Regions from separate parts of the Homo sapiens genome. Here regions 2 and 3 are each linked to region 1. Evidence: fine-mapped expression QTL. A gene starts in region 1. Each other region holds a variant in brackets. All regions are shown on one strand. Distances are from middle to middle.

Evidence for each region. PIP is the estimated chance that this variant, and not a neighbour inherited with it, causes the effect.
Region 2: its variant is fine-mapped to the expression of EFNA1 in blood mononuclear cells (TOPMed, PIP 0.99).
Region 3: its variant is fine-mapped to the expression of EFNA1 in whole blood (TOPMed, PIP 0.99).

Annotation. Positions count from the first base shown.
Region 1 is chr1:155,124,339-155,132,338 of GRCh38, forward strand. It overlaps EFNA1 (ephrin A1), which reads left to right and starts at 3,538. Exons shown (of 5, transcript NM_004428.3): 1 at 3,538-3,731; 2 at 7,001-7,296. The coding sequence starts at 3,640. RefSeq lists silencers at 355-649, 3,429-3,488 and enhancers at 553-1,392, 1,393-2,232.
Region 2 is chr1:155,145,779-155,156,617 of GRCh38, forward strand. It overlaps the pseudogene HMGN2P18. Among named protein-coding and RNA genes, the nearest start is that of DPM3, 11 kb to the left of the region's middle. The variant C/T (reference allele first, on the strand shown) is at 4,944.
Region 3 is chr1:155,071,246-155,079,245 of GRCh38, forward strand. The region is part of intron 1 of EFNA4-EFNA3 (EFNA4-EFNA3 readthrough); the gene reads left to right. EFNA3 (ephrin A3) reads left to right here and starts at 7,592. Exons shown (of 5, transcript NM_004952.5): 1 at 7,592-7,824. The coding sequence starts at 7,697. RefSeq lists enhancers at 168-247, 323-835 and silencers at 7,511-7,670, 7,701-7,850. The variant G/A (reference allele first, on the strand shown) is at 4,756.

The sequences.
Region 1 (8,000 bases):
CAGGCTGGTCTCAAACTCCTGACCTCAAGTGATTCACCCGCCTCAGCCTCCCAAAGTGCTGGAATTACAGGCGTGAGCCACCGTGCCCGGCCTATTTTCCAACTTCTGAAAAATGTGTGCACATTACTAATAAAGTGGGGAAGGGTATACTTTATGTTTCAAAATGACCTTGAGGGAGTACGACAGAGATTGCTCTCAGCCCAGGTTCTGCTCCTCCCCCTGCTGCCTCACCCCATTGCCCAGAGATGACCCCTGGGGCTGAGCCAGGTTTCACTTGCCCCAGGGCCCTGCAGCTCTGGCCTTCCCCTCCCCAAACTGCAGGGCACCCAGCAAAGGAGTCGCAATCCAGTACCTGCACCTGTTCCCAACTGGAAATGCTGCCTCCAGGCAGCCAGGGCCTACCCCAAGACCTCAGAGGAATTTCCTCTGAGGAAATTCCTGCCCTCCCAGGAATTTCCAGAAAGGACTCATGGAGGAATTTCCTAGACATGCAGACAGGCAGACAGACAGACACCTCAGGCAGCTCTCGTCACTAAGCGCAGATGTTTGCCTGCGGGTGACGTGCTGGGAGCCAACACAAGCACACAATTTTGCGGCGAGAGGCAGCACGAAGCAAGAATGGAGAGCAGACCCACCCGGGCAGGCTGGGGGCTGGCATGAGGAAGGGACTGGGAGGGGGCCCCAGAGTTGGTCAGCAGATCGAGTCTCCAGGAACAGAAGTCCCTACTATTATCTCTGTCTGAATGGCACAGTGCCCTGCAACTCTCCTCTCAGCACAGCAGGCATTGCAGGGGCTCCAGGAAGGGTCAGGGTAGTGTGACTGTGAGTGGTAGGGCCGCAGTCTGGGCTTGAGCACTTAGCAAGTTTGCTGTCCTGGTGGCTTGTCAATATCCCCTACCGGCCTGGGGGCTCCCCAAGGTAGTGATTTTATCTTAAACCCATCCTTACACTCTCGGTGCCCATCGCAACACCCAGCTCATCACAACACTCAGTGTCTAGGGCTGCTCCAGTAGGGTGGATGATCGACCCCCATATGGATAGGGGAGTGGATAGAGAGTGATGGGATCAATGCCCTAAGTGAGATGAGAATACTGGGGACAGCACCAAAGCAGGGAAAGAGGGCTCCGGGTCCTGTCGGTGCGCAGAATTTCCATGCACGCTTCTGCACCCAGCTTGCTCCAGACCTAGACGCAGGCAAGAGCTGACGTGGCCCCGCCAGACTGGGCCCAGCGAGCCCGAACCTGCCTGGCCCAAGCAGCTGCAGCGTGGGACTTCACACGTCCCCGCCCAGTCCCAGTGGTCAGAGAAACCAGGGAATCCGGCCCAAAGCTGTCTCCTCCAGGAGGCAACCCGGGCCACCTGCTCTAAAGAGCTACCAGCATCCCTCCCCTCTTCAACCCCCCTGCTGGCTCCTTTTCAGAACAGTTATGTCCAGCAGAAGTTAAGTTCCTTCACTGAACAGTGAGTGATTTCACTCACTCCACAGATATTTACTGACCATCTACTGTATGTGCTAGATGCTGTGCCAGGTGCTGGCAGTAAGATAATGAACAAAACAAAAACCCATGTCCTCCTGGAGCTTTGACTCTATGGAATGCCCGAACTGGGAGGCAGTACTCTCGCCGGGGCCACGTGGGAGGTCGACACCCAGGTGTCCTCCTAGGTGAGCAAAAGGCGCGTGAGGTGCCGCCCTGGGAGCAGTCGGCGGGTGGACTTCGTCCTGGGCGAGAGGAGCGGGCCGCACCTCGGACAAACGCTTGGCTGGGCACGTCGCCTGGGGCAGGTGCCCGAGGGAGAGGGGGGTGGCGCTGGCCGTGCGCAAAACCCGGCCCTGACCCGGCCACGGGGTTAGAGGCCGTTGGTACTCTATGTTTATTGTAAACGCAGCGAATACGGCCTCCAGCGGCCTCAGCGCACGTGGTGGTGCAGTGGGGAGCCGGCTGGGCCCTCCCCAGCTCCAGGCTCCTCCCCGGCGGGGTCAGCGCCAGACTTGCTGCGGCGTCCGGGCCCCGCGTAATTACAGGGGCTGTAGCCAGGCCTGGCCGTAAAATAGGAGGATGAAACGGCCTGGGAACTGGAGAAGCTGGGCCGGAGCTGGCCAGGGGCCCCGGGTCCGTGGCTTCCCGCGATGCGCAGCCGCAGGGAAGGGCCGGCTGAGGATGCGCACACACACTCACAACACCAACCTGGCGCGCACACAGCCACACAACCACACACGTAAACCACCAAACGCACGCAGACACACAGCATTCGGCTCTCCCACTCCAGGCTCACTCGTGAGCCTAATCAAACACCTGCCCGCCCTCTCCACCCCAGGAGCTGACACCCGCCCGCCAAGCCCTCTCCAGACGGCAGCAGATCCAGGCGGGGAGAAGAGCCCCGAGAGGCAAATTCCAGTGGGTTTGTTTACACAGCGCGGGGGAGGGGGCCTGAGCCGGGTACTGGGGCCCGACTGACTGGGAGCCCCAGCTCAGACTGGGCCAGCTCCAGCTGTGCAGCCTGAGGACTGCGCACAAACGCCCCTCCGTTCCACCCCACCCCCGCTGCACGCCGGTACGCGTCTCCCCTCCTCTTCACACGCTGTTCACAAACATTAGCATACGTCTGTCAAAGAGTTTCACACGCTTCCACACACGCGGCTGTGATACTACTCACAAATGCTTTCATGCTAGCGCGCCATCACACGTATTTCATGTGTGGTTACAGTTTGTCACCCTTCATGCCCAGATTCTCACAGTCCATATTCAAGAGCCTGTTCGCACGGTGTACGCGTGTGTTGTTACATATACTCAGGTTATTAGCGCTCTTTGACTTATCTAAAATAAGAACGGCCCCCTCTCGAGCCCAGGGTCCCGCGTGTCGCTCCTGCGGGCAGGCACTGATGTGATGGACAGAGGCGTCCTTAGCCCCGGCCGCACACGTTACACACTCGATCACACAAAGCGTTGCACTTTATTCCCGGCATCTAGGCGATGACACAATCTCCAGAACAAAGACAACATTGACAAACCCAACAAAAACAAACAGCCGCGTGTGTGTGGGGAGGGGCAGTCAAGCGCAGAGTCCGGGAAGGGGATGGGGGAGGAGGAGAGTGTGGGAACGCGGGCGCCCGAGCCTGGGCATGCGAGGCTCAGAAAGGTGCGGGGCATGTCAACAACCTCGCACCCTGCAAGGTCCGCGCGCGGAGCAGCAAAGCCGTGTCCCGCACCCCCGCGTTCGCAGACTCGCACTTGCGAGTTCTTCCCTTCTCCCGCACGCGACTGCGCCCAGGGACGCAAGCCCACCACCGGGACAGGCTCACAAAGCTCCACGCAGACCCACAAGTGAGCGAACACACATCTCTGAGCAGATCTGCGGGGGCAGAGGAGCGCGCTTCGCTCTTTCCTGCACCCCCAGCCTCCTCGCCTCCCCACCCCGCCCCTCCTCCACCTCCCCAGCCCCCAAGCCCCCAGGCAGCCGCGCGCCGGGCGGGGCGAGGGCGGGGCGGGGTGTCGGGCGGCGCCGGCCCAAAAGGCGGAGTCGCTAGGCGAAGGGGCCAGATCTGTGAGCCCAGCGCTGACTGCGCCGCGGAGAAAGCCAGTGGGAACCCAGACCCATAGGAGACCCGCGTCCCCGCTCGGCCTGGCCAGGCCCCGCGCTATGGAGTTCCTCTGGGCCCCTCTCTTGGGTCTGTGCTGCAGTCTGGCCGCTGCTGATCGCCACACCGTCTTCTGGAACAGTTCAAATCCCAAGTAAGCCTCGAGACTCCCGCTGGCAGCCTGGGCTCCCGGCTGGCACTACCCCACCGGGATAACTGTCCCGGCCAAACCCTGAGCTGAGCCTAGAGTAGATGACCGAGGTAGGAGGGCGGCTGTAGATTTTCCTCCCCTCACTTCTCCGTCATATCTGGGAGCACCCCACCCCGGGGCATGCTTGTGTCTACTTGCATGGGCTTATATCTGCCCTTCCCTTCCTTCTCTCTGGCACCCCTATTACTCTAAAGTGAGGGACTCATGCTGGGCAGTTCCTGCCTTCAGCATAGACTTCGCCCCTGGCAGCCAGGGCCCTTGTTCCAGGCCCCCCACCCCCCCACTGTGAAAGCCTCCACGCCTCTCCTTGTGTGTCCTTTGGGTATCTGACCACACTGACAGATACCTGGTGTGACATCAAGAGTGCACAGAATGCTCAAGGTAACCCTGGAAGGACCTCTCAGGAGAGAGCTGGGCTGTAGGCATTCATTATGCATTCACCCTGTATTTAAAGCAAACCTGGAAAGTCCCTCACTAGGGGTCTTTTGGGGTGGCATGAGTGAGGCACATGCTGTGCATGGGTAGGCTGAGGGAATCACCTGTTTATGGGGCTCTCAAGTAGTAAAAGCGAAGAGCTGGGAGAGGGAGATCATGGGAAAGCTTCAGAATGAACAGAAGAGGTTAAAGGGGTTACAGAAGGTTCTGGGCAGGAAGGAGTTAATTTCTCCTGGGCAGGTTTAGGGCTGTGAGGCAAATGGTACTGGGAGGAAGACTCTGTCGGCCCCTTTGTTCTTGCCCTTGAGTTTTCTGAAGTTATGGGAACAATATTTGAGGGAATACAGGAGAGGGTGGTAGGGAGGAGCAGGGAGAGAAGTGGGCAGCTTGGTATCACGAAAGCCATCTCACCGGCTTAGCCACTCTCGGCCCTAGCAAGCTTGCCCCCCACTCCCCTTGAGAAATATGTTGTGCCAGCTTCCTCTGACCCCGTGTCATCGTCTGGTGAGGCAGTCTGTTGTCTGTGGCTTGTTAGGGTGGGGGAGAGAACAGCCAGCTGCCAACCCCAGAGGGCAATGCCCTCCTGCCCATGGACGCTGGGGAGGCTCAGCCAGCCCTCCGCCACCCGCTCCCTGTGCTTTGCCTCCTTGACCTGATGCATCTCGCCCTAGTATGGGAGAGAGCAAAGTCCCTGTTTATGCCCATGCCAGGTGTTGACTGGAGGAGGAGGAGGGGACAGGAAGCCATGAGTAGGGAGGGGGGGACCCTGGCCTTTTCCGTTCCCAAGCTCCCAGGTTTCCTCTCTTTCAGGAAGGAGCCTCTTCCTTACCCACCTCCCCGCCTTCCCTGACGCCGCTGCCCCCCTTTCCCAGATGGGGAGCAAGAGTCAAATGAAGGCTAAGTACAGCAGACTGTACCCCCAGGAGAGGGGGCTGATGGGTGACCCTCTGGCCACACACACACACACACACACACACACACACACACGCACACCCTATCATACCCAGGACTAAAGAGACGCCAGTCCAGAGTAGAGTCCGTAGGCAGCCAAGCTGGGCCCAGCGTGGGGGCAAATATGAGGCTACAATGAACGGGGTAGGTGAGGCTGGCATGGGTGACTCAGGCCAGTGGGCAGCAGCCCTGGGATCTCCAGGCCTCAGGCGGGGGCAGCATGCTGAGAAGGGCGCCAGCCTCCCTCATGCTGGAGGGCAGGCCCCTCATTCTGACCTGCCAGCTCCCTTTGTTTGGAGGACACTGTTGGGGGTGAGTGGGCGCTGTGCCCTCCTGGGGTCCTGGGGGCTGTGCACATTTGACAAGGTAAGTTTTCACAAGTTCTCATGAGTGCTGGGGCGGGTAGCAGAGGTGGATGAGGAATGAGTCAGTGCCCGTCACGGGAATGAGGGAAAGACGCCAGGCCCAGAGCTGAAATACCTGTTCTGAAATGGCTTCTATGTTTATCTCTCCAGAGAGGAATTTTAAAAGCCTCTCTCTGCTCCTCTCTTTTCCCCAGGGTGGGGGAGGGGCCTGGTAAGCCCAGTTTGGGCGCTGGCACGCTGCTGCAAAGCCTGGCCTCTCAGGGGTCATGCTGATTGGGCAGTGGGTGCCCACCTCCGAGTCCTCTCTGCCTGACTCCTTCCTCGCCCTCCCAGCCGTGGCCAGGGCTTTCAGTTCGAAGCAACTTAGCGCTAATTCTGCTGGGTCTCTAGCTGGCAGTGCCTGGGGGAATTAGAGAAACTGACCAGCTTGCGGGGTCGGGGGAAGCACTTTTCCCCCTACTGGGACCCCACCCAGGCTGGAGCCAGGTGTCTGGAGCTGGTGGGGAGGGGCTGGTGGGCAGTCAGGCTGGAGCCGGTGGGGCCAGGGGGAATGAACTAGGGGAGGGGTGCTGGCTCCACCTTGGGAGGAGGGGAGAGGAGGGGAGAGGGGGAGAGGAGGAGAGAGGGGAGAGAGGGGAGAGGGGAGAGGCTGTCTCAAGCTCAAGCTCAGAGCTCCAGCATTTCATCTAGGGGGAGGTGGAAGTGTGGCTTTTAGAGATAAAAGGACAGGGTTGTTTTGGGGTGCTCTGAGAAGGGGAAAAGGAGACCAGTGTATAACTTTGAGTAGCTAGAACGGGAAGATTTGAGGGGGCTGAATGAATTGATGAGAGTGATTTAACTTAAAGGACTGGGGCATTATCTGTGGGCCCGGGTATACTAGCTTCACTTTTGAGGAAAAGTGAAGCTGGGAAATGTGAGATCTACTCAGTGGGTCCGGGGAAATGTGAGAGGAGTAAGGAAAGTGAAGACACAGATGTGTTGGAGGCTCCAGGCTAGCATGGTAAAGAGAAAGGGTTTCCTGGATTCTGATTACAGAATGGACCTGTGGGGGTCTCAGATTGAGGCCTAACAGCATTTAAAAGGAGCAACTGGTAGAACAGATTTGGGGAAATATTTATGGGTAGAAGAGAATGATAAGTGAGCTACAGAAATAGGTAGAAGCCCATCTAAATATCAGGTAAGTATCAGGGGGGTTATGGAAAATGCTTTGGTACCCGAAAGATACTGAGTGAATGCTATTTGAAGGACCAACAGGAGACAGTGATGGTGCAGGGGAATGTTTAGAGATGGCAGAGAGAAATGTAAGACATCAAGATCAGTACATATTGGGAGTTGAAACTTCGGAAAAATCTCTTGGGGTCCAGTGTGAAATGTGAGAGGTCATGTAAACATTCAGAGGCCCAAGGATCTGGCCTGGCTTCTGAATGACCACCTGCTTCTTCCCCCTGTGTGTGTCCCCAGGTTCCGGAATGAGGACTACACCATACATGTGCAGCTGAATGACTACGTGGACATCATCTGTCCGCACTATGAAGATCACTCTGTGGCAGACGCTGCCATGGAGCAGTACATACTGTACCTGGTGGAGCATGAGGAGTACCAGCTGTGCCAGCCCCAGTCCAAGGACCAAGTCCGCTGGCAGTGCAACCGGCCCAGTGCCAAGCATGGCCCGGAGAAGCTGTCTGAGAAGTTCCAGCGCTTCACACCTTTCACCCTGGGCAAGGAGTTCAAAGAAGGACACAGCTACTACTACATCTGTGAGTGCCTGTGAGGGGACAGTGTCTGTGTTTCTTTTTTGCCATTACATACATGCTTGGGTACATGCTTGGTGTAGAGTCCAGCAGCAGAGGGCCCCTTCCGATCTTGAATTCTATTTTCATTCATCTACATCCCAATGTGAGTGAGCTTCTACTATGTGCTGGGCACTCTGTTTAGCGCTATGAGCACAAAGATAAATAAAACACTACAGAGCCCCTGTCCTCAAGGAAGCTGGGAAGAAACACACATAGGTTAAGAGACCCTTAGAACAGTGTGCTACAGTAGACATGAACACAGGGGCCTTGGGAAAATGACCTGGGCACCTGCCAGGCTATGGGGCTCAGAGAAGGCTCAGTGGGGAAGATGGTCCCAGAGCTCAGGACAAGCAGAGGAGCTGGCCAGGCATGAAGGCACACGTACAAAGGGAGCATGACATCTTCAGGGAACTTCCTGTGGCTCAGCCTGGCTGGAGTTGGAGGGACACAGGAAGTGAGGAGATGTGAGCCTGGAGAGGTGGACAGAACAGACCATGGGGGAACTAAAAGGTGATAAGGAGTTTGGACTTTATCCTGAGGGCTCTCGCCACTGATGGGTTTTATTTTATTTTATTTTATTATTATTATTACTCTTGAGATGGAGTTTCACTCTTGTCGCCCAGGCTGGAGTGCAGTGGTGTGATCTCTGCTCACTGCAACCTCTACCT
Region 2 (10,839 bases), 23 kb after region 1:
GATTGTTTGAAAAGCATTTGCAACTAGCTTACCATTTGAAAAAAAATTAAGGTAGATTTGAACCTCACATCTTATACCAAAACAAAGACCCAGAGCAATAAAAACAATTTTTTCTTTTTCTTTTTCTTTTTTTGAGACGGAGTCTCACTCTGTCGCCAGGCTGGAGTGCAGTGGCATGATCTCAGCTCACTGCAACCTCCGACTCCCTGGTTCAAGCGATTCTCCTGCCTCAGCCTCCTGAGTAGCTGAGATTACAGGCACACGCCACCATGCCCAGCTGATTTTTGTATTTTTAATAGAGACAGGGTTTCACCATGTTGGCCAGGATGGTCTCGATCTCCTGACCTTGTGATGGCCCACCTTGGCCTCCCAAAGTGCTAGGATTACAGGTGTGAGCCACCGGGCCCCGCCCAAAACAATTTTAATGTAAAAAGTGAAACTCTAAATATGCTGCAAGCAAATGTGGTGCATGTTTCTCTAATGCTCAGCTCAAGTATCATGTCTCCCAGGCAGCCTTCCTGCGCCTTGATTCTGTCCTGCAGGGTTGGCCCCCATCTCCCTCCTCCTGCTCTCACTGACTTTCTTTTATTGACTTTCATGGCAATAACCATGTTGAGCTGTAGGGGTTTTCTTTCTCTGCCTGTCCTGCCCCCAGGACCATTGTATTCCCAAGATCAAGCACAGTGTGGGAAATGTAGCCGGGTTTCTATAAATGTATGATGAGTGAGCGAGAGAGAGAAGGACAGTTTGGCATTAGATGGTCTCCAGAAAAACTGAGCTAGCTTTCCTGGTCCCAGGAAATACAACTACTCCAGAGACCCCAGTCTGCCAGACACAGGGTGTTTGGCCTTGGATAGCACTGGACAAGAGACAGAATATTCTTACAGTCCAACTCCTTTCTCTTCAGTCTTTCTGCAGATCATTACCCTTCCACTACCACCTCAGGATGAAGTACATGTGATTACAATAGGATATGAGAGGCAGAGCAGCTTGGGAGTTAAAAATTGGGGCTTTTGGGGAACATGTCATCAGGACCTCCTGAGGCTGTGTCATGGTTAAAAAAATAATAATAATTTTTTTTTTAATTGGGGCTTTTGCTGGGCATGGTGGCTCATACCTGTAATCCCAGCATCTTGGGAGGACAAGGCAAGAGAATCGTGTCAGGCCAGGAGTTTGAGACCAGACTGGGCAACATAGTGAGACCTTGTCTCTATAAAAAAAAATATTAAAAATGGACGGGCATGGTGGCTTACACCTATAATCCCAGCACTTTGGGGGGCTGAGGTGGGCAGATCACCAGGTCAGGAGTTCGAGACCAGCTTGGCCAACATGGTGAAACCCCATCTCTACTAAAAATGCAAAATTTAGCTGGGTGTGGTGGTGCACGCCTGTAATCCCAGCTACTGAGGAGGCTGAGGCAGGAGAATTGCTTGAACCCAGGAGGCAGAGGTTGCAGTGAGCCAAGATCATGCTACTGCACTCCAGTCTGGGCGATAGAGCAAGACTCTGTCTCAAAAAAAATTTTTTTAATATATATTTTATTTAAATATGTATCTATAAAATATATACATATTTAAATATGTATCTATTAAATAGATACATATTTAAATATGTATCTATTAAATAGATACATATTTATGTATCTATTAAATAGATACATATATTATATATATGTAAATTTTAGCTGGCATGGTAGAGCATGCCTATAGTGCTAGCTACTCCAGCGCCTGAGGCAGGAGGATTGCTTGAGCCCAGTCAAACAATTTGGAAGACAAATTCCAAATCTAAGAGCCTCTGTACTGAAGATAAAAGGATATGCAAAGTTAAACAGAACACAGAGAAGGAAGGGACTATCTGGAGGGAAGGCTTCATAGAGGCCCAGAAGCCTGAGTTGATACTGGAAAGATGAGTAAGAGTTGTTTAGGTGAGGGGAGGGGGCATGTAAGGCCAAGGGAACAGCTTGAATGAGAGGCCTGAAAGTTCATGGTGGGCAATCTTTTGTGGCTGTGTCTGAGACAAAGAATGTTTCATGGGGGCAGTGGCAAGGATGAGGTTGGAAAAGCTGGCCAGGGTCAAGTGATTAAAGACCCCTTAAAAGTATGTGTGGGCTGGGCGAGGTGGCTCATGCCTGTAACCCCAGCACTTTGGTTGGTCGAGGCGGGCAGATCACTTGAGTTCAGGAGTTCGAGACCAGCCTGGCCAACATGGTGAAACCCTGTCTCTACTAAAAATACAAAAATTAGCCGGGCACAGTGGCATGCACCTGTAATCCTAGCCACTTGGGAGACTGAGGCAGGAGAATTGCTTGAACCCAGGAGGTGGAGGTTGCAGTCAGCCAAGGTTGCACCATTGCATTCCAGCCTGGGTGACAGAGCAAGACTCTGTCTCAAAAAAATAAAATAAAAGTATTTCTGTTGGACGCTTCACCTGTAAAGATACATATAGGACTGAAAATAAAGGGAAAAGATATTCCATGCCAATGGAAACCAAAACAGAGCAGGAGTAGCTATACTTATATTAGACAAAATAAATTTCAAGATAAAACTGTAAGAAGAGACAAAGAAGCTCATTATGTAATGATAAAGGGGTCAATTCAGCAAGAGGTTATGATCATTATAAATATATATGCAGCCAACAGTGGAGCATCCATATATATAAAGCAAATATTATTAGAGCTAAAGAATAGAAGAAGAAGAAGATACAAGAATGACCCCCAGACCGACCCGCGTGCCCAGCGCCTACATCCCGTCGCTGTTGCCACCACCATGCCCAAGGGAAAGGCTGAAGGGGATCCTAAAGGAGATAAAGCCAAGGTGAAGGACGAACCACAAAGGAGATCCGCGAGGTTGTCTGCTAAACCTTCTTCTCCAAAGCCAGAGCCCAAGCCTAAAAAGGCCCCTGCAAAGAAGGGAGAGAAGGTACTCAAAGAGAAGAAGGGAAAAGCTGATGCTGGAAAGGAGGGGAATAACCCTGCAGAAAATGGAGATGCCAAAACAGACCAGGAACAGAAAGCTGAAGGTGCTGGAGATGCCAGAGGAAGTGTGTGCATTTTTGATAACTGTGTACTTCTGGTGAGTGTACAGTTTGAAATACTATTTTGTATCAAGTTTTATAAAAATGCAGATTTTTTAAATTTATTTTTTATTTTTTATTTTTATTTTTTGAGACGGAGTCTCGCTCTGTCTCCTAGGCTGGAGTGCAGTGGCGTGATCTCGGCTCACTGCGAGCTCCGCCTCCCAAGTTCACGCCATTCTCCTGCCTCAGCCTCCCGAGTAACTGGGACTACAGGCGCCTGCCAGCACGCCCAGCTAATTTTTTGTATTTTTAGTAGAGACGAGGTTTCACCGTGTTAGCCAGGATGGTCTCAATCTCCTGACCTCATGATCCGCCCACCTCGGCCTCCCAGAGTGCTGGGATTACAGGCGTGAGCCACCGCGCCCGGCCCAGATTTTTTTTTTTTTTTTAAGCTATGTTGTTAGCACACAGAACACTTCATTGTTGCTTTTAGGAGAAGGAGCAAATGTCACTAATAGAATGTCTCTGAAGCTGGATTGATATGGGGAAATCGTCTTTTCCTTCTAGTTCCGAGAGACTTCCTCTTGGCTCCCAGGAGGAGGGATTCCCTGACTTTGACACACATGGCCACCTTGGCACAAAAGCCTTGTGAAAGGGAAAAGCAAATTTGTTTTTATGTCCTCTTCTCCCTTTCCATCTTTCAGCATAGACTTAACTCCCTTAAGCCCAGACATCTATTGGAACCTGACCTCCAATCATTGGTTACTAGTGTGTCAGGCAATCTGGACTTTCCAGTGATGTCACTGAGATGGCACCTGTCAAAAGAGCAATGGTGCGGGGTGTGGTGGCTCACGCCTGTAATCCCAGCACTGTGGGAGGCCGAGGCAGGCGGATCACCTGAGGTCGAGAGTTTGAGACCAGCCTGGCTAATATGGTGAAACCCCCTTCTCTACTAAAAATACAAAAAATTAGCCGTGTGTGGTGGCGGATGCCTGTAATCCCAGCTACTTGGGAGGCTGAGGCAAGAGAATCACTTGAACCTGGGAGGCGAAGGTTGCAGTGAGCCGAGATCACACGACCGTACTCCAGCCTGGGCACGACAGAGCGAGACTGCCTCTCAAAAAAAAAAAAAAAAAAAAAAAAAAAAAAAAAAAAGTAGTGGTTCTGTTTCTAGATTGTAGATCTTCAGATAAATTCTGCCATTTTAATTTCACTTCCTGAAAGTCAGGGTTGACTTGTGAAAAGTTGTTAAACAACATGCTAAATGTGAAATGTCAACTCTCACTCTAAACTTTCCCTGTTCAGATCATCAGATGAAGACTTCATTGGGTTTTATAGTGGCTTTCTGATTTCTGGTAGTCCATTGAAGAAGGGAGTTTGAAAGTTGTTGTATACTGTTAATGATTGTCTGCCCATGTCCTGCCTGAAATACCATGATTGTTTATGCAAAGTATCTTTAATAAAACTGGATACAGTTAGGCTTGGGGGAAAAAAAAAGAATAAACAGCTGGAGGCTTCAACACCCAACTTTCAGCATTGGACAGAACTCCCAGATAGAAAATCAACAAAGAAACATCGGATTTAATCTGCACTACAGAACAAATTGACCTAACAGATACTTATAGAACATTTCATCCAATGGCTACAGAACACACATTCTTCTCCTCAGCATAGGGATCATTCTCAAGGATAGACCATATGTTACTCCCAAAACAAGTCTTAAAACATTCAATTCAAAAAAATTGAAATAATATCAAACATCTCTGACCACAGTGGAATAAAACTAGAAATCAATAACAAAAGGAATTTTGGAAACTATTCAAATACATGGAAATTAAACAATATGCTCCTGAATGACCAGTGGGTCAATGAAGAAATTAAGAAGGAAATTGAAAAATTTCTTGAAACAAATGATAATAGAAACACAA[C/T]GTACTAACACACCTATGGAATACAGTGAAAGCAGTACTAAGAGGGAAATTTATAGCTATAAGTGCCTACATCAAAAAAGAGGAAAAACAGCCTTGGCAACATGGCAAAACTTTGCCTCTACAAAAATACAAAAATTAGCCAGACGGGGTGGTGTGTGCCTATAGTCCCAGCTACTTGGGAGGCTGAGGTGGGAGGATCACTTGAGCCTGGGTGGTCTAGGCTGCTGTTGGCCATGATTCTCGACACTGCACTCCAGCCTGGGCAACAGAGCAAGACCCTCCTCTCAAAAAAAAAAAAAAAGAGGAAGAAGAAAAACAACCAAATAACCTAATGATGCATGTTAAAGAACTTGAAGAGGCAGAGCAAACTGAACCCAAAATTAGGAGAAGAAAATAAATAATAAGGTTCAGATCAGAAATAAATGAATTTGGGCCGGGCGCATTGGCTCACGCCTGTAATCCTAGCACTTTGGGAGGCCAAGCGGGGCAGATTGCCTGAGCTCAGGAGTTTGGGACCAGCCTGGGCAACACAGTGAAGCCCTGTCTCTACTAAAATACAAAAAAGTAGCTGGCTGTGGCAGCATGCACCTGCAGTCCCAGCTACTCAGGCTGAGGCAGGAGAATTGCTTGAACCCGGGAGGCGGAGATTGCAGTGAGCTGAGATCACACAACTTCACTCCAGCCCAGGCAACAGAGTAAGACTCTGTCCCCTCTCTCCCCCACCCCCCCAAAAAAAAGGAAAGAAAGAAAGAAAGAAATGAATAAATGAATTTGAAATGAAGAAAACCCCATCTCTACTAAAAATACAAAAAATAGCTGGTAGTAGTGGCATGCACCTGTAATCCCAGCTACTCCAGAGGCTGAGGCAAGAGAATCACTTGAACCTGGGAGGCAGGGTTTGCAGTGATCCAAGATCGTGCCACTGCACCCCATCCTGGGCAACAGAGTGAGACTCCATCTCAAAAAGAAATAATAAAAATAAAAATATAAAATAAAAAAGATCAGGCCAGGCGCAGTGGCTCACACCTGTAATCCCAGCACTTTGGGAGGTCCAGGCGGGCAGATCACATGAGGTCAGGAGTTCAAGACCAGCCTGGCCAAGATGACGAAGCCCCATCTCTACAAAAAATACAAAAAAATAGCCGGGCATGGTGGCGGGTGCCTGTAATCCCAGCTACTCGGGAGGTTGAGTCAGGAAAATCACTTGAACCTGGGAGGTGGAGCTTGCAGTGAGCCAAGATCGCGCCACTGCGCTCCAACCTGGGCAACAGAGTGAGACTCCATCTCAAAAAATAAATAAATAAATGAAATAAAAAAGATCAACGAACAAAAAGTTGTTTTTTTAAAAAGATAAACAAAATTGGCAAACGTTTAGCCAGACTAAGAAAAGAAAAAGAAAAGACCCAAATAAATAAAATCAGAGATTAAAAAGGAGACAGTGCATCTAATACCGCAGAAATTCAAGGGCTCACTAGTGGCTACTATGAGCAACTATATGCCAATAAATTGCAAAATCCAGAAGAAATGGATAAATTCCTAGATACATCTAACCTACCAGGATTGAACCATGAAGACATCCAAAACCCAAATAGAGCAATAACAAGTCACGAGATCAGAGCTGTAATACAGTCTCCCAGTAGGCTGGGCATGGTGGCTCATGCCTGTAATCGCAGCACTTTAGGAGACCAATGTGGGAGGATTGCTAGAGCCCAGGAGTTGGAGACCAACCTAGACAACATAGAGAGACCCTGTCTTTATTAAAAAAAAAAAAAAAAAAAAAAAAATCCAGGCGCAGGGGCTCACGCCTGTAATCCCAACACTCTGGCAAGCCAAGGTGGTGGATCACTTGAGGTCAGGAGTTCCAGAGCAGCCTGGCCAACATGGCGAAACCCTGTCTCTACTAAAATTACAAAAATTAGCCAGGCGTGGTGGTGCATGCCTGTAATCCCAGCTACTCCGGAGGCTGAGGCAGGAGAATAGCTTGAACCCGAGAGGCAGAGGTTGCAGTGAGTAGAGATCATGCCACTTCTCTCCAGCCTAAGCGACAGAGCAAGAGTCTGTCTCAAACAAAAAAAAAAAAAAGAAAGAAAGAAAGAGGCCAGGCATGATGGGTCACGCCTGTAATCTCAGCACTTTGGGAGGCCAAGGCAGGTGGATCACGTGAGGTCAGGAGTTCGAGACCAGCCTGGCCAACATGCTGAAACCCCATCTCTACTAAAAACACAAAAATTAGGCCTGGCACGGTGGCTCACGCCTGTAATCCCAGCACTTTGGGAGGCCGAGGTGGGCAGATCACCCGAGGTTGGGAGTTTGAGACCAGCCTGACCAACATGGAGAAACCCTGTCTCTACTAAAAATACAAAATTAGCCAGGCATGGTGGTGCATACCTGTAATCCCAGCTACTCGGGAGGCTGAGGCGGGAGAATTGCTTGAACCCAGGAGGCAGAGGTTGCAAGTGAGCAGAGATTGGGCCATTGCACTCCAGCCTGGGGGCAACAAGAGCGAAACTCCATCTCCAAATAAAAGACAAAAAACAAAAAAACCAAGACAGTCTCACTCTGTTGCCCAGGCTGGGATTCCTTCCAAAGTGCTGAGATTATAGGCGTGAGCCACCATGCCCGGCCTAAGACTCTGTCTCAAAAAAGAAAAAAAATTTTAAAGAATAACTAATACCAGTCCTACTCAAACTGTTCCAAAATATAGAGGAGGAGGGAATACTTCCAAATTCATTATACAAGGCTGGTGTTACTGATACCAAAACCAGACAAAGACACATGAAGAAAAGAAAACTACAGACCAATATCTCTCATAAATATTGACGCAAAAATTCTTAGCAAAATACTAGCAAACAAAATTCAATAATTCATTAAAAAGATCATTCATCATGACCAGGTGGGATTTATCCCGGGGATGCAAGGATGGTTCAACTTATGCAAATCAATCAATGTGATGCATCATATCAACAGAATGAAGGACAAAAACCATATAATCATTTCGATTGATGCTAAGAAAATGTTTGATAAAGTTCAACATCACTTCATGATAAAAACCCTCAAAAAATGAATATAGAAGGAACATACGTCAACATATTAAATGCCATATATGACAGACCCATAGCTAGTAAAATACTGACTGCAGAGAAACTGAAAGCCTTTCCTCTTAGATCTAGAACATGACAAGGATGCCCACTTTGACCGTTGTTATTTAGTATAGTACTGAAAGTTTTAGCTAGAGCAATCAGACAAGAGAAAAAAATAAAGAGGACTGGGCGTGGTGGCTCATGCCTGTAATCCCAGCACTTTGGGAGGCCGAGGCTGGCGGATCACCTGAGGTCAGGAGTTCGAGACCAGCCTGACCAAACATGGAGAAACCCCGTCTCTACTAAAAATAAAAAACTAGCTGGGCGTGGTGGCACATGCCTGTAATCCCAGCCACTTGGGAAGCTGAGGCAGGAGAATCGCTTGAACCCAGGAGGCAGAGGTTGCAGTGAGCTGAGATCACGCCGTTGCACTCCAGCCTGGGTAACAAGAGCGAAACTCTGTCTCAAAAAAAAAAAAAAGAAAAAAGAAATAAAGAGCATCCAAACTGGAAAGGAAGAAGTCAAATTATCCTTGTTTGCAGGTGATATGATCTTATATTTGGAAAAACCTAGACTTCACGAAAAAAACATTAGAACTGATAAACAAATTCAGTAAAGTTGCAGGATACAAAGTCAACATACAAAAATCAGTAGCATTTCTCTATGTCAATCGTTAACAATCTGAAAGAGAAATCAAGAAAGTAATCCCATTTACAATAGCCATGAATAAAGTTAAATACCTCAGAATTAACTTAGCCAAAGAAGTGAAAGATCTCTACAATGAAAACTACAAAACACTGATGAGGCCGGGAGCTGTAACTCATGCCTGTAATGCCAGCACTCTGGGAGGCCAAAGTGGGAGGATTGCTTGAGCTTAGGAGTTTGAGACTAGCCTGGGCAACATAGTGAGATCCCATCTCTACAAAAATAAATAAGAAAGAAAGGCTGGGCACGGTGGCTCATGCCTATAATCCCAGCACTTTGGGAGGCCGAGGCAGGTGGATCACCTGAGGCCAGGAGTTCAAGACCAGCCGGGCAAATATGCTGAGATCCTGTCTCTAATAAAAATGCAAAAATGAGCCGGGGGTGGTGGTGTGCACCTGTAGTCCCAGCTACTCAGGAGGCTGAGGCAGGAGAATCACTTGAACCTAGGAGGCAGAGGTTGCAGTGAGAGGAGATCACGCCACTGTACTCCAGCCTGGGCAACAGTGTGAGACTCCATCTCAAAAATAAATAAATAAATAAATAAATAAGAAAGAAAAAGAATAAAACACTGATGAAAGAAATCGAAGAAGACACAAAAATATAGAAAGATATTCCATGTTCCTGGATTGGAAGTATCAATATTGTTAAAATGTCTATACTACCCAAAGCAATCTACAGATTCAAAGAAATCCCTATCAAACTACCAATGACATTCTTCACGAAAATAGACAAAACAATCCTAAAAGTTGTATGGAATCACAAAAGATCCAGGATAGCCAAAGCTATCTTGAGCAAAAAGAACAAAACTGGAGGAATCACATTACCTGACTTCAAATTACACTACAGAGCTATAGTATGCAAAACAGCATGGAACTGGCATAAAAACGAACACATAGACCAATGGCAGAATAGAGAACCCAGAAACAAATTTATACACCTATGGTAAACTCATTTTTGACAAAGGTGCCAAGAACATACACTGGGGAAAAAAACATTCTCTTTAATAAATGGTGCTGGGATAACTAGATATTCATATGCAGAAGAATGAAACAAGGGAGGCAGATTGCACAGGAAAAAAAAATGGATGAAACTTGACCCCTGTCTCTCGCCATATACAAAAATCTAATCAAAATGGATTAAAGTCTTAAATCTAAGACCTCAAACTATGAAACTGCTACAAGAAAACATTGAGGAAACTCCAGGACATTGGTCTGGGCAAAAATTTCTTGAGTAATATACCATAAGAACAGGCAACTAAAGCAAAAATGGACAAATGAGATCACATCAAGTTAAAAAGCATAACAAAGGAAATAACAACAAAGTGAAGAGACAACCCACAGAATGGAAGAAAATATTTGCAATCTGATAAGGGATTAATAACCAGAATATATAAGGAGCTTAAACAACTCTTTAGGAAAAAAATCTAATAATCTGATTTTAAAATGGGCATAAGATTTGAGTAGACATTTCTCAAAAGAAAACATACAAATGGCAAACAGACATATGGAAAGGTGCTCAACGTCATTGATCATCAGAGAACTGCACATCAAAACTACAATGGGATATCATCTTGCCCCAGTTAAAATGGCTTATATCCAAAAGACAAGTAATAATAAATGCTGGCAAGGATGTGGAGAAAAGGGAACCCTCCTACACTGTTGGTGGGAATGTAAATTAGTGCAAGCAGAGTTTACAGATGCCTCAAAAAAACTAAATATAGAGCTACCATGTGATTCAGCAATCCCACTGCTGGGTGTATACCAAAAGAGAAAGGAAATCAGTATATCAAAGAGATATCTGCACTCCCATGTTTGTTGCAGCACTGTTCACAATAGTCAAGATTTGGAAGCACGTTAAGTGTCCATCAGCAGATGAATGGATAAGGAAAATGTGGCACATATACACAATGGAGTACTATTCAGCCATAAAAAAGGAATTAAATTCTGTCATTTGCAACAATATGGATGGAACTGGAGGTCATTATGTTAAGTGAAATAAGCCAGGAACAGAAAGACAAACATCACATGTTCTCACTTATTTATGGGTCCTAAAAATCAAAACAGACCAGGGGTGGTGTCTCATGCCCGTAATCCCAGCACTTTGGGAGGCTG
Region 3 (8,000 bases), 53 kb before region 1:
GCCACAGGCGCTCAGGCCCAGCCGGCCTTCCCTATACAACTTTCCTCATAGCATGCGCGGGCGGCTGATTCAGTCCCGGGGCGCGTCCCCATGGAAAGCCAGGGCTGAGTCCACTCATGGGGCCGAGACGGGCTGCAGGCGCTGGGAGGTCTTCCAGGCACCGGGCCTTACCCACGAGAAGTCGAGGCGTGTTCCAGGGCGCAGTTCCAGGAGGCTGGGCAGGCCTGCAAGTTTTGGGGCGTCACCGATCTCCCCTAAACTCAGTAGCGCTAGGCGGCTTAGGGTGGGGCCCTCAATTTGCTGGGCCTGCCCTAGTCTCTCCCGAATAGATGCGAAAACTCCACTCATCTTTACCTCGCCCTGTCTCCCTGTTTGAGAGCCTGAGAGTCTCTGCGACGGGCAATCCTGCTCCACACTTTCTGGGGTTTCAAATCTCCCTTTTCTTCTCCAGATTCAACCCTGAAGTTTTGTTCTTTTTCTGTCACCTCCCCCCTTTTTCTTCTTCCCTTTTATTAGTTCCTTCTTTCCTTTTTCATTCACTCAGCACATTGTGAGCTTCCAGCGCGCCTTTCTTTCAGTAGGCCAGACGCTAGCTGGGGTCGTCGGGGGATCCCCAGCGGTGACGCCATTGAAAAGGGTGCGCTCTGGCTTCCAAATAGCCAATAGAATCCCGGGGCCTGGGGCATGAGGTCATCAGCGGTGATGCCCATTGGTTCAGGTCTGGAAGTGAGGAAGGGGTCCCCATAGCAACCGACGGTGCGTCCGAGTGCAACCTGGAGAGTAATGTTTGCCTGAGCTGCTGTGGCAGCTTGGGTGGGTGCTTGGGATGGGGTGAGGAAGCTGGGGTGGAGCTCAGCTTCCCAGGTCCTGCAGCCCTAGCCCAAGCAAGCTCTTATCTCTCTTGAGATCCTTTTTCGTTCTCAAAGTAATGGTCAGCACCACTTAACGCAGAAAGATTAGGAGTAGGTTGGTTATTGGCAACAGCATTGGGGTGCAGAGCTGCTGCCACCAGGAATGTCAGTACTGAGATCCTGTGTTCATCTGCATATCGTCTGCATCTCATTTGCATTCTCTTCATTTAAGGTCAAATTGGGCAGACATCTCCACATCCCCAGCCCTGTCGCCTGTCTGTTTCTGGAATCTATCCCTGAGTGGCTCTGTAATCTGTCCCTCAGTTCTCCACCTTCATACCCCACCTCTCCCATTCTCCAGTGTCTGTTGGGGACGGATGGGGCAAAGCCAGCAACAGAAGAAAGGATAAGGAGTTTGTTCTCCCGCTGGATGTTTGGTGACAGATGGGGAGTACTAGTCTATACTGCTTGGCCCCGGCTGGGTGGAGGGTCTCCAGGGCCAAATCACCCACATGCCTGGCGGGGTGCTGGAACTAGGGATGCCTGGTTCCAGCAAGGGGCAGGCCTGCCCACCTGTCTGGTGCCAAGGCAGCTTCCTTCCTCCAATTAAACACTAATGAGGTGTCATTAACCCTTACCTTGCCTGCCAACCCTCAGGTTGAACTCAAATTCGTGGTCTCACACTGAGGGAAGGGAAGGAAAGGAGGGCTTCTGGAGAGCTGAGTGGTGGTGAGGGGACCAAGAGAAAAGAAGGCAGGGTCAGAAGCCTGAGTAGCATGCACGGTTTTCTACTGTGGGCTTCTGAAGGATTCTAGAAATGGGAGTCCCACTGTCAGAAGGCATTTATTCTTTTGTTCCTTGATTCAACAATTATTAAGCACCTCACTACTCCTACTAAGTAAATACTAGGCTGCATACTAGATGCTGGGGACACACACTTGCATAAGACAAGATCGCTTCCCTTAAGGGATCTTCAGATTACCCAAGGAGACAGACTGGCCAATGAGTAATTATAATGCAAAGTGAAAATGCTAATATAGAGCTATATACGAAGTGTTATGGGAACACAGGGAAAACGGGTCATCAGAGAAGGCTTTGATTTTGAAGGACAAAGTATATGGCAGAGAGGGGATGTGTAGAACTAATAATGTCTGTGGGTTTGACACAGTGTGGGTCTATGTTTGGATGTGTTTTCAGGACTGCTGGTGTCTGCCCTCCCAGAGCGGCATGTTTTGCATCCGTATGTATGTGTGTGAGTTAGTGTATGTGTGTTGTGTCTGGAATCCCTTCTCCTGAAACACATTGTGGTTTTATTACAGATCAATGTTTGCTGTGAAGCTCTTCAGCAGATTGGCCTGAACCTGCCCAGCCCAGGGGAGGGGAAGTGGAGACTGATGTTGGCTCCTTGGGAAAGGGTGGGCAGGCACCATCTTCACACCTGGGGGCCCAGACCCCTGGCTCCCAAAGTGGCAGCAGGCTGACCAAAGAAGGTGAAGGGTTGGGCCCCTGGCTTTGTAGGGTGTGCCCAGGCTCTAGTCCCCTCTGTCCCTAACTCCTCAGAGGAGACATGGGGGTTACCGCTACCACTCCCCACCAAGATCTCAGGCCCCCTCCCCCAACCTGTTCTTCTTCTGTCTGTGGAGGAGCAGGCCAGCTCAGACCTGTTTGCTGGCTCTCCCACAGGGAGCGGATCCTTTCCAGGGGACACAGAGGGCTGGGGAATGCTGGGACCTACTGGGAGGCCGCCAGATACTCCACCCTGGCCCTCTGAGGCTCTCTCCATCCTGGATTCTCCCCACCCACTCTGGGGTGCCACTCTTCTGGTTTTTGCCCAGACACAATCATTTTTGTCAAGGAAGCCTTCAACCACTAGGCAGAGGGTGGGGGCCAGAACTCTGGCAGGGAAGACTTGTTGGGGGTGGTGGTTATGATGCTACTCAGAGACCTCTGCTCCAATCTCTCTGCCTCCTTGCAGCCACTTCCTTCCTTCCTTTCTTTTTTAAGAGACAGGGTTTCACTCTGTTGCTCAGGCTGAAGGGCAATGGTGTGATCATTGCTCATGGCAGCCTCAAACTTTTGGACTCAAGTCATCCTCCTGCCTCAGCCTCCCAAAGTGCTAGGATTGATTACAAGTGTGAGCCACTGCATGGGCATTGCAGCCACTTTCTTTTATTTATTTATTTATTTATTTTTGAGACAGAGTCTCGCTCTGTTGCTCAGGCTGGAGTGCAGTGGCACGATCTCGGCTCACTGCAAGCTTCGCCTCCCGGGTTCACGCCATTCTCCTGCCTCAGCCTCCCGAGTAGCTGGGACTACAGGCACCCGCCACCATGCCTGGCTAATTTTTTGTATTTTTAGTAGAGACGAGGTTTCACCATGTTAGCCAGGATGGTCTCGATCTCCTGACCTCGTGATCCTCCCGCCTCAGCCTCCCAAAGTGCTGGGATTACAGGTGTGAGCCACCCGGCCATTGCAGTCACTTTCTAGAGAGCTAAACTTTGGTGAAAGTCTGGATTTAGGAAGACTTTTAAGGCTTAAGGAGAGTCTCTGGGGTCTGAGGAGAAGGTCAAGGTCCCTTCTTCCACACTGTCAAGAATAGAGACTTCCTTTTTTGACTGTAACCTCCTCTTCTCATTCCATCTAATCTTTTCCTACCCCTTGCATACTTTCTAAGCCCTAGGTCACATCTCTCCCTATGTTAGCTGTTAGGAAAGCTTGGAAATGAGGGAGAACAAATGGAAAAGAGTCTGGGCTGGTCTAGGTGGGCAGACCTCAGTAGATAACCTCTTAATTATAAGAAACCCTCCATTAATCCAGTGCCTCTGGGATCCTAAACACTGTGTTAAGTGCTTCCCAGGTATTATGGATCTTAATCCTCTTAACTACCAGCTCCCTGAGGTGGGGCATTATTATCCCCATTTTACAGATGAGGAAGCAGTCTCAGAGAAGTTGAGTGACTAGCATAGTTAGCGAGTGGCAGAACTGGAATTCGAATCCAAGCCCAGGCTGTTCACTGCTAAGCCAATACTGCTGCCTCTCAGCTTTTCTTGAAATACATTCAGAGGACTCACACACACCTCTAGTGTAACACCCCAGAGCTCCAGGCTTCTTGGCTTGCTGGACTCATTAGAGGGATCAGGACATGACCAGAATCAGAGGTGATTACACCCCAATGCCACCCACCAAGCCCTGCATCCTAATTTCCTGTGAACTGGACCACATACCAGTGCTTATGTTCCCTGCTGTCAGGCTTGTATGTAGTTCCATGTCAACTCACAGACGTTAGAGCATCCTCAGAGCCATGCCGACACACACACACTTGCTGGGACCCAGGTTTCCTGGTTAGGACGGCACCAACAGCCTGCCTGGGCTGGGGCCACACACACGGGCCCTGTGCAAGGTGCAGAACCTGTGAATATTTCATGCCTGGAGCTGGCAGCTGCCTCTCTTGCTCACACGTGTGCCTGATCTTCCCTCTCACAGGCTCCTTGTTTATTTGTTTAATGAATTATTTATCCATGGCCCCGCTTCCCTCCTGACCTCCCCCTTCCCCAGGCCCTAGCCTCCATGATTTATTGAACACAGCTCAGCTCTGTGGTTGCCACCTACTGTCCCAGACGCTGCCTTCGGCCACACAGCCTGAGAGCTCCCTCTGTCCCACACCTGCTCAGCTCCCTGCTTCCTTGGCCCCTGAGGGATGGAGGAGAGTGAGGCACCATGTCAGAGTCCTCCCAGGAGCTGAGCTCAGTGTCCCGGGAGAGATCTTGGCAGCCAGCAGTGTGCTAGCAAGCCCAAGAGTCAGAGCCTGCAGGTAAGGAGGAGGAGGCCTGAAGCCCTGAAAACAGGACCAGCCCCATGGAGGGAGCTCCAACCTCCACAGAGGCCCTCATCCAACAGAGAGGTC[G/A]TTCAGGGCCCAGGCCTTAGACACCAGTTTTTCACACTATAGGTTGTGATCTATAGTGGGGATGGTAAAGTCAAGAAGTCAATTTTATGGGCTTCAACCAGCTTTTTATTTTATTGTTTTTAATTTTAAAACTAGAACAGAGGAAAATATCATCGTGCATCCTCTGTAGTAAGGGTAAGTATTGTTTCATGAAACTTATTATTTCAGTTAAATGTGTGTGTGTATGAGTGTGTGTGTATGAGTGTGTGTGTGTGTGTGTGTGTGTGACTGAACTGCAGTGCAAAATATAATCCTACTGTGGTGGATCACAGTCAGAAACAATTTGAGTTACATTTATACCCAAACGTCTAGACCCCATCAATAAGGCCTGGGTCCTTCCATGACTCACATGCCACAGAGAGAAGCCCAGGCCTTTAGATTAGGCCCTGGGCATGTGGACAGTGGCTCAGATCTTATACACAGGGACTCAGTCCCTAGAGAAGCCCAGACCTTATGAATAGAGGCCTATAGACAGACATAGGCATTATAGCTAGAAGCACATATCCTGTAGACAGAATTGCCATATATGGTCATATAGTTTGTGCATGGCACAAAGGAGCCACCCAAGGGGAAGGGGACATCGGCCCAAGCTCCCTCACTAAGACAGGGAGCCACTAGAGCCACCTCTCACTGAAGGAGGCAGCACCTTTGTTTTTGCACAAAGGCACCACTTGCCAAGAGATGCACCCTAGGGACTGAGCCTGCAAAGAAGGGTCCTTTTTCTAATTCACACAAAGGCCCAAATCAGCTAGCAGCCCTATGGATAGAGGCCCAGGTAGACAAAGCACTAGATCCCACGGACACAGGCCTAGCTAGGCCCTATAAAGAGTATCTCAACTTCAAAACCAGAGGCTTCGACTCCATAGAGAGAGCTGCTTAAATCCTGTAGAGAGGGCTCCGGATTCTAAGAGAAGGGCTCAGTTATTATTGGAGGGTGGGTGTGGGGGTGCCAGATTCTAAAGAGTACCCAGGCCCTATAGAAAAAGGCCCAAATTCTTAAGCAGAACCTAGATTCGATAAACAGGGATATATCTTTTCTAAAATGGAATTTAAAGTCCTAGACCAAACCAGCAAGTTCCTGTTCACTATCAATATGAGCAGCGTCTCTGCCAACTGTGGGCCCCTACAGAGAGAAGCTGCCCTTGTGGAGCAGGGAATATGATTTGAGTGGAGGGGGCTGGGATTTGTGGCACCTGGAGTAAGCAGGTTAGCATCATTTGGGTGAAACAAATCTCTCTGGGGATGAGGAGCCTGCAGGGAGGGAGAGCTGTTTGCAGAGTCCCCCACTCCCATCCCAAGGGGCCTAATTTATTTGCTGGCTCCTGAGAAGGAAGAAGAGATCTCCTGGGGTGGAGAGGAGCCCAGAGAAAACAGAGACTACTCTCACCTGGCAGCAGTCAGACACTGAACCTATTCTGGATAGCACCGCCCCTGCCCCCAGCCTAGCACCTGAGGCTGACTTGTGGTCAAGACTCTGTCCTGCCACAGATAAGCAGATAGGGAGGTGCCTGCATGTTCCCTCTCCTGAAGGATAGAAGCAAAGTAGCAGCATGCCTGTCTCCCTGGACACAGGTGGTTGGCTTGCGTTCTGAGAACCCAGTCAGGCCTGGTTCCGCCTGGTCTGGGCCTCTCCAAAAGAGAAGAGATAAGGGACAGATAGCCCTAGGTCTGGTTTCTGAACCCTTTTCCTGAACTTCTACTTCCTAGAAAGAGAGAAGAGGAGAGCAAGGAACTGTGTGTGTCAGGATGCATGTGGGTTTGTGTGTGTGTTGTGTGTGGATGGATATAGGTGTGTGCTTGGGTGTCTCTGTGCCTGATCTCTAGCAGTCTGATAGTACCCTTTCCTATGTGTGTCTGGAAGGTGTACCTGTGTGTCCATATGTCTGTGTCAGGCACCTGTGTCTCTATGTTCTCTGCCTTTGGGTGACTGTGCCTTTTTTCCTGAATGTGTGTGTGTGATGTGTGTGCTTGGGTGTCACTGTGAGGACAATGACTGTGGTGAGAGCTGGAACACAAGGTGCTCTGCCCTCTGACTCAGGATCAGCGTCTCTGAGAGTAGGAGTGAGAATCCCTGGGGACAACCCTGGCTGCCCCGGGAGGGGCCCTGCCTAAGTGCCAGTGAGGAATCCTTTGTAGGTGTCCAGGGAACCCTGCTTTGCCCCAGCTGACTCTCTCCTTGACCCCCTCCTGCGCCTTGGGTTCTGGACCACTGAAGACTCTTACAGCTCCCAGTATTGACATTCTCAGGGGCTGAGCTCTTTTACTCTGCCTCCAAGATAAACAAGCCTCATGCTCAGCTGGGGGCTTCAGGTCACCAGCTGTCAAAGCCTTGGTGCCAGCTGAGGACTTCTCCACCACCCTTCTGTGCCCACCTGAGTCCTCATGCACACGGGAAAAGGGGGCATGGACGCAGCAGAGGGCCACAGTTTTCAGAAGGGAAGGGGTCCAGCCCTACTTACTAAGAGGTCCTGGATCCCCAACTTCTTCTCAAGTCTTCTCCTTCCCCTCATTCCCAGAGATGATTGGGCTTCCCTGAGATCGAGATCCTTATCTTGGGTTCCCAAATCCTTCTGGGAAATTCAGCCTGGGGAGCAAAAGACCCAGGACCAGTTGTAGCAAACTGAACTCAAGAAGGAGAGACGAGGCACGCGCTGGTCTTTCCCGAGGGGGCAGTACGGTCCCCACCTCCCACGCGTCGCGCGCTCCCGACCGGAGCGGGACGGGGCCTGTCGGGGGCGCGCCAGGGGCGGGGCTTCGGGGGCGCGCCCAGGAGGGCGGAGGGAAGGGCTGGGGGCGTGGCCTAAGGCTGGGGGCCGACGGCGGCGGCAGCAGGGAGCTGGGAAGCGGAGAAGCCGGGAGCGCGGGGCTCAGTCGGGGGGCGGCGGCGGCGGCGGCTCCGGGGATGGCGGCGGCTCCGCTGCTGCTGCTGCTGCTGCTCGTGCCCGTGCCGCTGCTGCCGCTGCTGGCCCAAGGGCCCGGAGGGGCGCTGGGAAACCGGCATGCGGTGTACTGGAACAGCTCCAACCAGCAGTGAGTCGGGGACCCTGGGAGTCCGCGCGTCCCGTCTCAGTGAGAGGGGGAGCCGGTGGGCCCGAGAAGTCCTGGGGGATCCCGGGGTGGGAGTCCTGGGAGACCAGAGCTGGGGGCTGGGAGGGGACGGAGAGGGGGACGCACTCTGTGGGCGTCTAGGAAACTCGGGGGTGTCT